Linked DNA regions of Homo sapiens: region 2 is linked to region 1. Evidence: fine-mapped expression QTL. A gene starts in region 1. The other region holds a variant in brackets. All regions are shown on one strand. Distances are between the middles of the regions. Region 1 holds the start of TOMM22 (translocase of outer mitochondrial membrane 22). Region 2 overlaps FAM227A (family with sequence similarity 227 member A).

Evidence for each region. PIP is the estimated chance that this variant, and not a neighbour inherited with it, causes the effect.
Region 2: its variant is fine-mapped to the expression of TOMM22 in whole blood (INTERVAL, PIP above 0.99).

Annotation. Positions count from the first base shown.
Region 1 is chr22:38,679,979-38,684,372 of GRCh38, forward strand. TOMM22 (translocase of outer mitochondrial membrane 22) reads left to right here and starts at 1,979. Exons shown (of 4, transcript NM_020243.5): 1 at 1,979-2,117; 2 at 2,345-2,463; 3 at 2,901-3,018; 4 at 3,789-4,394. The coding sequence starts at 2,001. The coding sequence ends at 3,863. TOMM22-DT (TOMM22 divergent transcript) reads right to left here and starts at 1,878. Exons shown (of 2, transcript XR_007068097.1): 1 at 1,748-1,878. RefSeq lists enhancers at 1,767-2,966, 2,013-2,082 and silencers at 1,813-1,882, 2,273-2,322.
Region 2 is chr22:38,595,198-38,599,591 of GRCh38, forward strand. FAM227A (family with sequence similarity 227 member A) reads right to left here. Exons shown (of 17, transcript NM_001013647.2): 15 at 2,007-2,159. Among named protein-coding and RNA genes, the nearest start is that of DMC1, 27 kb to the left of the region's middle. RefSeq lists a silencer at 3,354-3,554. The variant A/G (reference allele first, on the strand shown) is at 2,265.

The DNA of each region.
Region 1 (4,394 bases):
CTGTACTATTATGAAAGCATCTGATAGAGGCTGGGAGCAGTGGCTCATACCTGTAATCCCAGCACTTTGGGAAGCCAAGGCGGGTGGATCACCTGAGGTCACGAGTTTTAGACCAGCCTGGCCGACATGGTGAAATCCCATCTCTACTAAAAATACAAAAAGTTAGCCAGGCATGGTGGCACACACCTGTAGTCCCAGCTACTTGGGAGGCTGAGGCGGGAGAATCGCTTGAGCCCAGGAGGTTGCAGTGAGCTGAGATCATGCCACTGCACTCCAGCCTGGGCGACAGAGCAAGACTCCATCTCAAAAACAAACACACAAACTCAAACAAAAATTTATATCTGCATACTTTCTGACCAGCTCACCTACTTACTAGAAATCTATGTACTATGCCTCAGTTTCCTCATTTCTAAAATGGGGATAACAGTGCCTACCCCAGTGAGCTGCTGTGAAGATTAAAGGAGGACACACCGCACCCACCCACACCCACAGGCACCAGAGCACCTGGTATTTAGGTGTTAACTCTTACCTTTGTTTGGTACATAGGGAAGATTTACCTGATGTTTTCCCAAAAGACCTGCAAGACACTAATTTATTCCTACCAAGTAAAACATGGCTCAGGAAAACGAAACTGGATCAGTGTCTCTCTAAAACAGCCCAAGAAGCAGGCCAAGGAGATGGACAAGGAAGATAAATCTTTGGCCCTGGTCACAGGCCGAATTAAGAAATCCGGCAAGGTGGGGCGCAGTGGCATAGGCCTGTAATCCTAGGACTTGGGGAGGCTGAGGCAGTCGGATTGCTTGAGTCTCGGAGTTCAAGACCAGCCTAGGCAACACAGTGAAACCCTGTCTTTATATATATATGTATGTGTGTGTGTGTGTGTGTGTGTATATGTGTGTATGTATATATACATAATACGTATATATGTATACGTATGTATATATATACATATATACACATACCTATATACACATATATACATATATACACATATATACATATATATACATATATACGTATATATATACACACACATAAAATATATATTATATATAATATATAACTATATATAGGCCAGGTGCGGTGGCTGATGCCTGTAATGCCAGCACTTTGGGAGGCCGAGGCGGGCAGATCACTTGAGGTCAGGAGTTCAAAACCAGCCTAGCCAAATGGTGAAACCCCGTCTCTACTAAAAATACAAAAAATTAGCGGGGCGTGGTTGGTGGTGCATGCTGAGGCAGGAGAATCGCTTGAACCTGGGAGGCGGAGCTTGCAGTGAGCCGGGATCACACCACTGCACTCCATCCAGTCTGGGCGACAGAGCGAGACTCCGTCTCAAAACAAAACCAACAACAACAACAACAACAAAAAGCTAAAATCTTACAAAAAGCGACCTGTTCCACTGTCCCTTGGGCCTGCGGTGATGGTGGGCCTGACTCCATTCGTCTTTAAACATCTCTATTCCCGGCCACATCTTTGGCCACCTATGCTCGAATAAAGTGTTGTCTTGGAGCCTGTTGTAAATTTAAGAATAAACTTTTGTTAAAAAAAAAAATACAGTGGCTCATCATCTCTTGAGTTGTTTTCACTCAGCCACTCCTACCTTAGCTGTGAACTTAAAGTAAAACAAGCCCCCAGAATCTTGCCAGAGTCAGCCCTTTGATCTTTGTTCTCCCCTGAACTCTATTACCTGGAATTAAAACAACGCATTTGAAAAAAAGAAAAACAAGCAAGTTTCTGAGCTCACCCTATACCCGCTGAACAGAATGACTGCGGTGGCGCCCCAGAACCTCTCACAGGCCTCTCAGCTGCTGCTAATGCCCGCCGAAGCCCCGACGCCCGGATAAGGCCAGGGCTGCCGGACCCGCTGCGGGCACTGGAGGACCCGGGGCTAGAGGGCGCCGCTCTCGCCCGGCTCGCGCCTCGGCTCCCGGAAAAGCAGCTCTGTCCGCCGTTCGGCTGCGCTCACCTCCTTTCCGCTTCCGGTGTCCCCTACAGTCATGGCTGCCGCCGTCGCTGCTGCCGGTGCAGGGGAACCCCAGTCCCCGGACGAATTGCTCCCGAAAGGCGACGCGGAGAAGCCTGAGGAGGAGCTGGAGGAGGACGACGATGAGGAGGTACTAGGGCCTCGCGGGGTGCAGAGCGGGAAGCGGGCCCGCTCGTGGGTGTGGGATCCGCGTGGTACGGGATCGGAGCGAAGCGGCTGCTTTGGGAGGCGGGGTTAGGGGCCCTGCTGGGCCCTGGGTGCCCTAGCTCCAGTGGGGCTCGGCGGCTCCCAGTGCCGCAGCGGGGCCAGGAATGGATGTCGCTTTTTCGGCTAAGACCCGCGTCTACTCCACCACAGCTAGATGAGACCCTGTCGGAGAGACTATGGGGCCTGACGGAGATGTTTCCGGAGAGGGTCCGGTCCGCGGCCGGAGCCACTTTTGATCTTTCCCTCTTTGTGGCTCAGAAAATGTACAGGTAAGGAACGAGGGCAAAGGCACTGGGTACGTGCATGGGATGGTCGTGGTGCTGTGAAAGAACACGGGGTTTGGAAGCAGCAGACCCGTGTTGGGTGACCTTGGGCTTGTACCCTATCCTTTCTTAGTTTCCTCTTCTGTAAAATGGGGATTCTTACCTGGCAGGGGAGTTGTGGGGGTTATTTCAGATTGTTGGAGATAATTAATGAATAAGGAGCTTTGTAAGAACTCAGGAGAATGTTAAACCGCCATCACTAGATGATACAGCTACCATAGCTGCTCCTCCTGTCTCTGGTAGGAGTATGGTGTAAGGAGCGGGTAGAATACGTTTATCAAAAACATTGGAGTATGTAATGTGAGAGGTTTGGTTACTGGGTAGTTCTTGCCTGTTTTGTTTGCATGTCTTCATGCTCACCCTCTGGGGATTTTCCTCTGCAGGTTTTCCAGGGCAGCCTTGTGGATTGGGACCACTTCCTTTATGATCCTGGTTCTTCCCGTTGTCTTTGAGACGGAGAAGTTGCAAATGGAGCAACAGCAGCAACTGCAGCAGCGGCAGGTGAGCCCAGACCTTGGGCTTTTTGCCAGTGGTGGAGACGCAAGTTATTTCACTAACACATTGGTCCCCAACCTTTTTGGCACCAGGGACTGGTTTCATGGAACACAGTTTTTACATGGATGGTGGGTTGGGGGTGGCCGGGGGTCGGGGGGGGGGTTCTGGATGATTCAAGTGCATTACATTTATTGTGCACTGAATTTCTATTATTACATTGTAATATATAATGAAATAATTCTATAACGTAGAATGAGTGGGAGCCCTGAGCTTGTTTTCCTGCAACTAGACAGTCCTGTCTGGGGGTGATGGGAGACAGTGACAGATCATCAGGCATTAGATTTTCATAAGGAGCTTGCAACCTAGATCCCTCGCATGCACTGTTCACAAGGGTTTGTGTTCCTATGAGAATCTAACACTGCTGCTGATCTGACAGGAGGTGGAGCTCAGGCAGTAATGTGAGCGATGGTGAACAGCAGTAAACACAGATGAAGCTTCTCTCACTTGCCTGCTGCTGATCTACTGCTGTGTGGCTCAGCTCCTAACAGGCCATGGGCCAGTGCCAGTCCACAGCCCAGGGGTTGAGGGCTCCTGTTGTAGCACCTGAGTTGACCAACAGTTAATGTGTGGGTGGGGATTGGGATCGGGCCCATGCTCTTTTAGTTGTCTGACTGTGCTTTCAGTATTATTTTTGTAGACGTTGGCCCCATCAGGTATGGTGAGAATAAGCTCTCTAGGCCTGTATGATGCCTTACACCCCTCCTTTTCTTTTCCAGATACTTCTAGGACCTAACACAGGGCTCTCAGGAGGAATGCCAGGGGCTCTACCCTCACTTCCTGGAAAGATCTAGATTGTTATTGCTGTTTGAGCTGTCTCAGTGGGATAAGTTTGAAATTCAAGTGTTTGAACTGCTGATAATTTGGATTTTTTTTTTTTTTTAACTTTGGCACATTGATCTATCTAAACCTGGTGGGGAGAATTATCCCCACATTGTCTCATGGAAAGACTCAACTTGCAACTGTGCCCTCCACACTATCCTTACTTCTGTCTCCACTCTGATACCAGAGTGCAGCCATGCAGATGGTTATTCCAGCTCTGGTCACCCGACTCCTTTCACCAAATTGCTCCTAACTGGAAGATCTCACTTTCCCCTTGTGGGGTAGGAACCGATGCCAGTGGGAGGGATGTGCCCCTGACCATTAACGACTGTTTTTTTTTTTTTTTTTTAAAGAATGGAGTTGTTGGGGCAGGACATGCACACAATGTGAAACAGACAAAATGCATTACACCTGTAGTGTAAAGTGGCCACTATGAATCCCTATGTATGAGAGGAGGGAGGCAGGCTGCAGCTTCAGCCACAGAATGGGGACTATGGAAGACA
Region 2 (4,394 bases), 85 kb before region 1:
ACATGGATAGCTGTCTAGCCAATAGCAATTCCCTCTTTCTCGTTTGTAAACTGAATCCCATTTTGTTTTGGACAACAAAGTGCCCAGTTCTATGGAAGGTCCAGTCCAGTTGTGGAAATCTCGCCCTCCTTGGCCAGATATTTCCCATGCTTCCCTTGCAGACAGGGTGGCTCCATGAAAGAGTTATAGGGGCATGAAGGAAAGACATGAGAGAGACAAAGAAAGATAAAAGAAAGTGAGCTATTCTTTATGGAAAAATGCCAGCTAATAAATGTAGAAGGAATGGCAGAAGTAGAAAAATCACCATTTTGCAACCTTAAATGTAATAGTTAATCAGGCAAAGACCACTGATGAGTGCTAAAACCACTGTGTGAAAGATGTTGGGGAAGCACATTCACACAGTCTGGGAGAATCACATCATTTATTCCTGACTAATTAGAAAGACAAACATGTGCTCTTACAATGCAGAGATCTGGTAGATACCAGTTTAACCAAGTGTTTAAACTTAGCATCACCAGTAGCAGAGCAACCTGACATGATATGCCTCCTAATGGGATGCAACATAAATATACAACATCACCTGTGAAAGATTTTGGGCAAAATGATTTAACTTGAATCTAATCAAACCTCTAGCATAGACCTAATGTCCAGTGTACAGAAAACATAGGCTATATTGGAACAAATTCAATGCTACTTTGAGGAAATATCAGAAAAACCCAGAATGTGGCTTGAGCTTTTCAAAAAAGTCCATGTCATAAAAAAACAACTAATAAGGGGGGGGGGGCAGGATACTGTTATAGATTCAAAGACACCAAAGAGATAAAACTAAATACAATTTCTGGCTAGGCACGGTGGCTCACGCCTATAATCTCAACAGTTTGGGAGGCTGAGGCAGGGGCAGATCACCTGAGGTCAGGCGTTTGAGACCAACCAGGCAACATGGTGAATCCCCTTCTCTACTAAAAACACAAAAATTAGCCGGGCATGGTGGTGCACACCTATAGTCCCAGCTACTCGGGAGGCTGAGGCGGGAGGATTGCTTGAGCCCAGGAGGCAGAGGCTGCAGTGAGCCAAGATCACACCACTGCACTCCAGCCTAGGCAACAGAGTGAGACTCTGGCTCAAAAAACAAAAAACAAAATATAATTTGTGATTCTTGATTGGATCCTGGAGCAGCAGGTAAAGCCAAAGACACACTGAGTTAGGCACAGTGGCTCGTGTCTGTAATCCCAGCACTCCAGAGGAGGCTAAGGAAGGAGGATCACTTGAACCCAGGAGTTTGAGGCTGCAGCAGGCTGTAATTGAGCTGCTGCACTGCAGCCCGGGTGACTGAGTGGGACCCTGTCTCTAAAAATTAAAATACATTTTGGGGACAATTGGGGAAATCTGAATTTGGATTAGCTATTAGAGAGAGAAAGCAAATGGGGCAAAATGTGAATACTTGGCAAATGCCTGATGGACAGTTCAGTGTACTATCCTGATGGACAGTTCAGTGTACTATCCTGATGGACAGTTCAGTGTACTATCAACTTTCTGAAAGGTTTTTCTAAGTAAAATAAAATTTCTGAAAAAGGCAGAAGACAGAGGAAAATGTCCATAATATGCTGCTAGTGGGAAAAAATAGGTCTAAAAAACAGACCAACAGTATGACTCTACACTACTTTATTTAGTGATACGGATATATGGGCCCAGAAAAAAAAGACTGGAAGGATTTATAGGAAAATGTTGGCAATGTGTATCTCTTGGTACTTTTATGTGGTTTCCGGGTCCTTTGTTTGCTTTCATTGAACACATAATGTTTTTGTAGTTAGAAAAAAAAAATAACAACAAAAAAAGCTCTGGTCTCTGTTATTAGGAGTTTATAATCTGACCACAAGAAAGCTGATTATGCTTATGATGGTTACAGGAAACCCCCCTGCCCCACCAACCCATTTAAAAATGATGATGATCGTGTGCTGCAAAAGATAAGTGCGGAACAACGGCATTCCCCAAAGCCCCTTCCATACCTGGAGAAGTTGTCTTGCAGCTCCTTTAGATGCTTGTCAAAATAATTCCATTCAGTCCAATGATGCTGGTACAACTGATTGAGGTTGTCTTTCCGCTTCTTCATGCTGCACAGGGTCTCGCTGATGACATCAGTATACGTTGGGGTGCAGTCAGTGGCTTCCGCTGTCAAGGAAATCCCCGTACTGTGGAACTGTGTTGACGCTGCATTATTAGTGGCATGAGCGCAGTGCATGGGGAAGAGGGGCATGGAGGACAGA[A/G]CAGGGAAAATGCCCTGCGTTTCTGGATAAGATACCTGAAATCTGAGCAAGAGATGACTCTCCTGCTCTTTGACCATGGCCTGCTTTGGAGGGAAGAGGCCATCCTATCCGTGGCCAGGCGTTCTCTACGTAGGAATAAAGTCCTTCTCTGCCCCTGTGGATGGAAGGCAGGGCTAAGAAATACTTTTTTAGACTGTCATCTGAAATTCTTATTCTATTATCACAGCGGTGAATAGGAAGGGCTCCCAGCTTTCCTTTTCTCTCAGCCCAAGGCCTCATTCTCCATCTCGTTTGTATATAAAAATATTCTTGGCCAGGCGCGGTGTAATCCCAGCACTTTGGGAGGCCAAGGCAGGCGGATCACGAGGTTAGGAGATTGAGACCATCCTGGCTAACACTGTGAAATCCCATCTGTACTAAAAATACAAAAAATTAGCTGGGCATGGTGGCACATGCCTGTAATCCCAGCTACTTGGGAGGCTGAGGCAGGAGAATCGCTTGAACCCAGGAGGCGGAAGTTGCGGTGAGCCGAAATCGCGCCACTGCACTCCAGCCTAGGCAACAGAGTGAGACTCTGTCTCAAAAAAAAAAAAAAAAAAGAAAATTCTCCCTCTGCTCTGCCCTCCTTCCACCCCTTCTTGATTGGTTAGAATCTCAGCTACACTCGCCACAAGCTGTGGGACCTCAGACAAGATAGCAGTCATCCTCTGTGCCTCCATTTCCATATCTGTAAAACAGAGATAATAATGCCCACTTTAGATGATGTTAATCATAATCCTGGTAGTTATTTATGTAGTATCAGCTGTATGCCATTTAATCCTCATCACAACACTGTAAGTTTGGTATAACTATCCAAATTTTAGGAATGAGTAGATAAAGATATTGAGCTTGGAGGTCGAGCTGTGCACATAAGATCTCAAAGCCAGTGGTTGCTAAACTGGGACTCAAATCTAGGGCTGCATATCCCAACCCAGGTTCCTTCCACTACACTAAACTGTCTTTAGAGAACAATGAAGTGATGTTTGGGAAAACATGTTGCAAGAAATAAAACACTATGAAATGTGAGTTGTTGTTATTACTCTCTCCCTATAGAACATGTAAATAAGTTTGCGGACATGCAGTTCTGTGCAGAAGACGCAAAGTCCTCCTAGTTCATTACGAAACTCCTCCTGTTGGGGAGCTCAATGTAGACGTGGATCATCCCAGCCCTTGTTATCTGCCAGGCACTAGCCTTTATCTCTGTTGTGTCTGTAATCTGCATAATAGCCCTATGAGGCAGGTACTCTTATCCCTATTTTACAGGTGAAAAAAATGAGGCACAGAGAGAAGCTGGAACTTATCTCAAATCACTCGGTTTGCAGTAGAGTTGGTTCCTGAGTCCAGGTGTGTTTGAACCAATAGACCAGTTTGATTCCAAATAGAACCCGTGTTCTCTGACTCCTATGGTAAGCTGCTAAGACTCAGGACACCAATATAGGCCACACTTGTTTTCTTTCTTTTTTTTTTTTTTTTGAGATGGAGTTTTACTCTTGCTGCCCAGGCTGCAGTGCAATGGCGTGATCTCGGGTCACTGCAACCTCCGCCTCCTGGGTTCAAGCGATTCTCCTGCCTCAGCCTCCCAAGTAGCTGCGATTATACAGGCACGCACCACCAGGCCCAGCTAATTTTTTTTGTATTTTTAGTAGAGACGGGGTTTCACCATGTTGGCCAGGCTGGTCTCAAACTCCTTACCTCAGATGATCCGCTCATCTCGGCTCTCACAGTGCTGGGATTACAGGCGTGAGCTACCACGCCTGGCCAACCACACCTGTTCTCTTGAGATCTGAGCTTTCTATTAGATCTTTAGGATAAATGGCAACAGGGCCAGGAATATGCTGATGGGTCTAAGGGAGGAATGTGTCTGAGGAGGGTGTTAGATGAAACATACATGTGGACAACAAAATTCCTGGTCAGTACATACTCTGGGGTCAACGAGTGTCTGGGAAGCACTATTTAGTTTCAATATATGTTAGAATACCAAGTTAGCACATTCATTCTGGTAGGTGGAAAACAGATTTTGCACACAAGGAAATTTGACACACCCTGGGGTCTCATGGCCAGTTCACGAGGCTGGCTCTAGATTTGGAACTA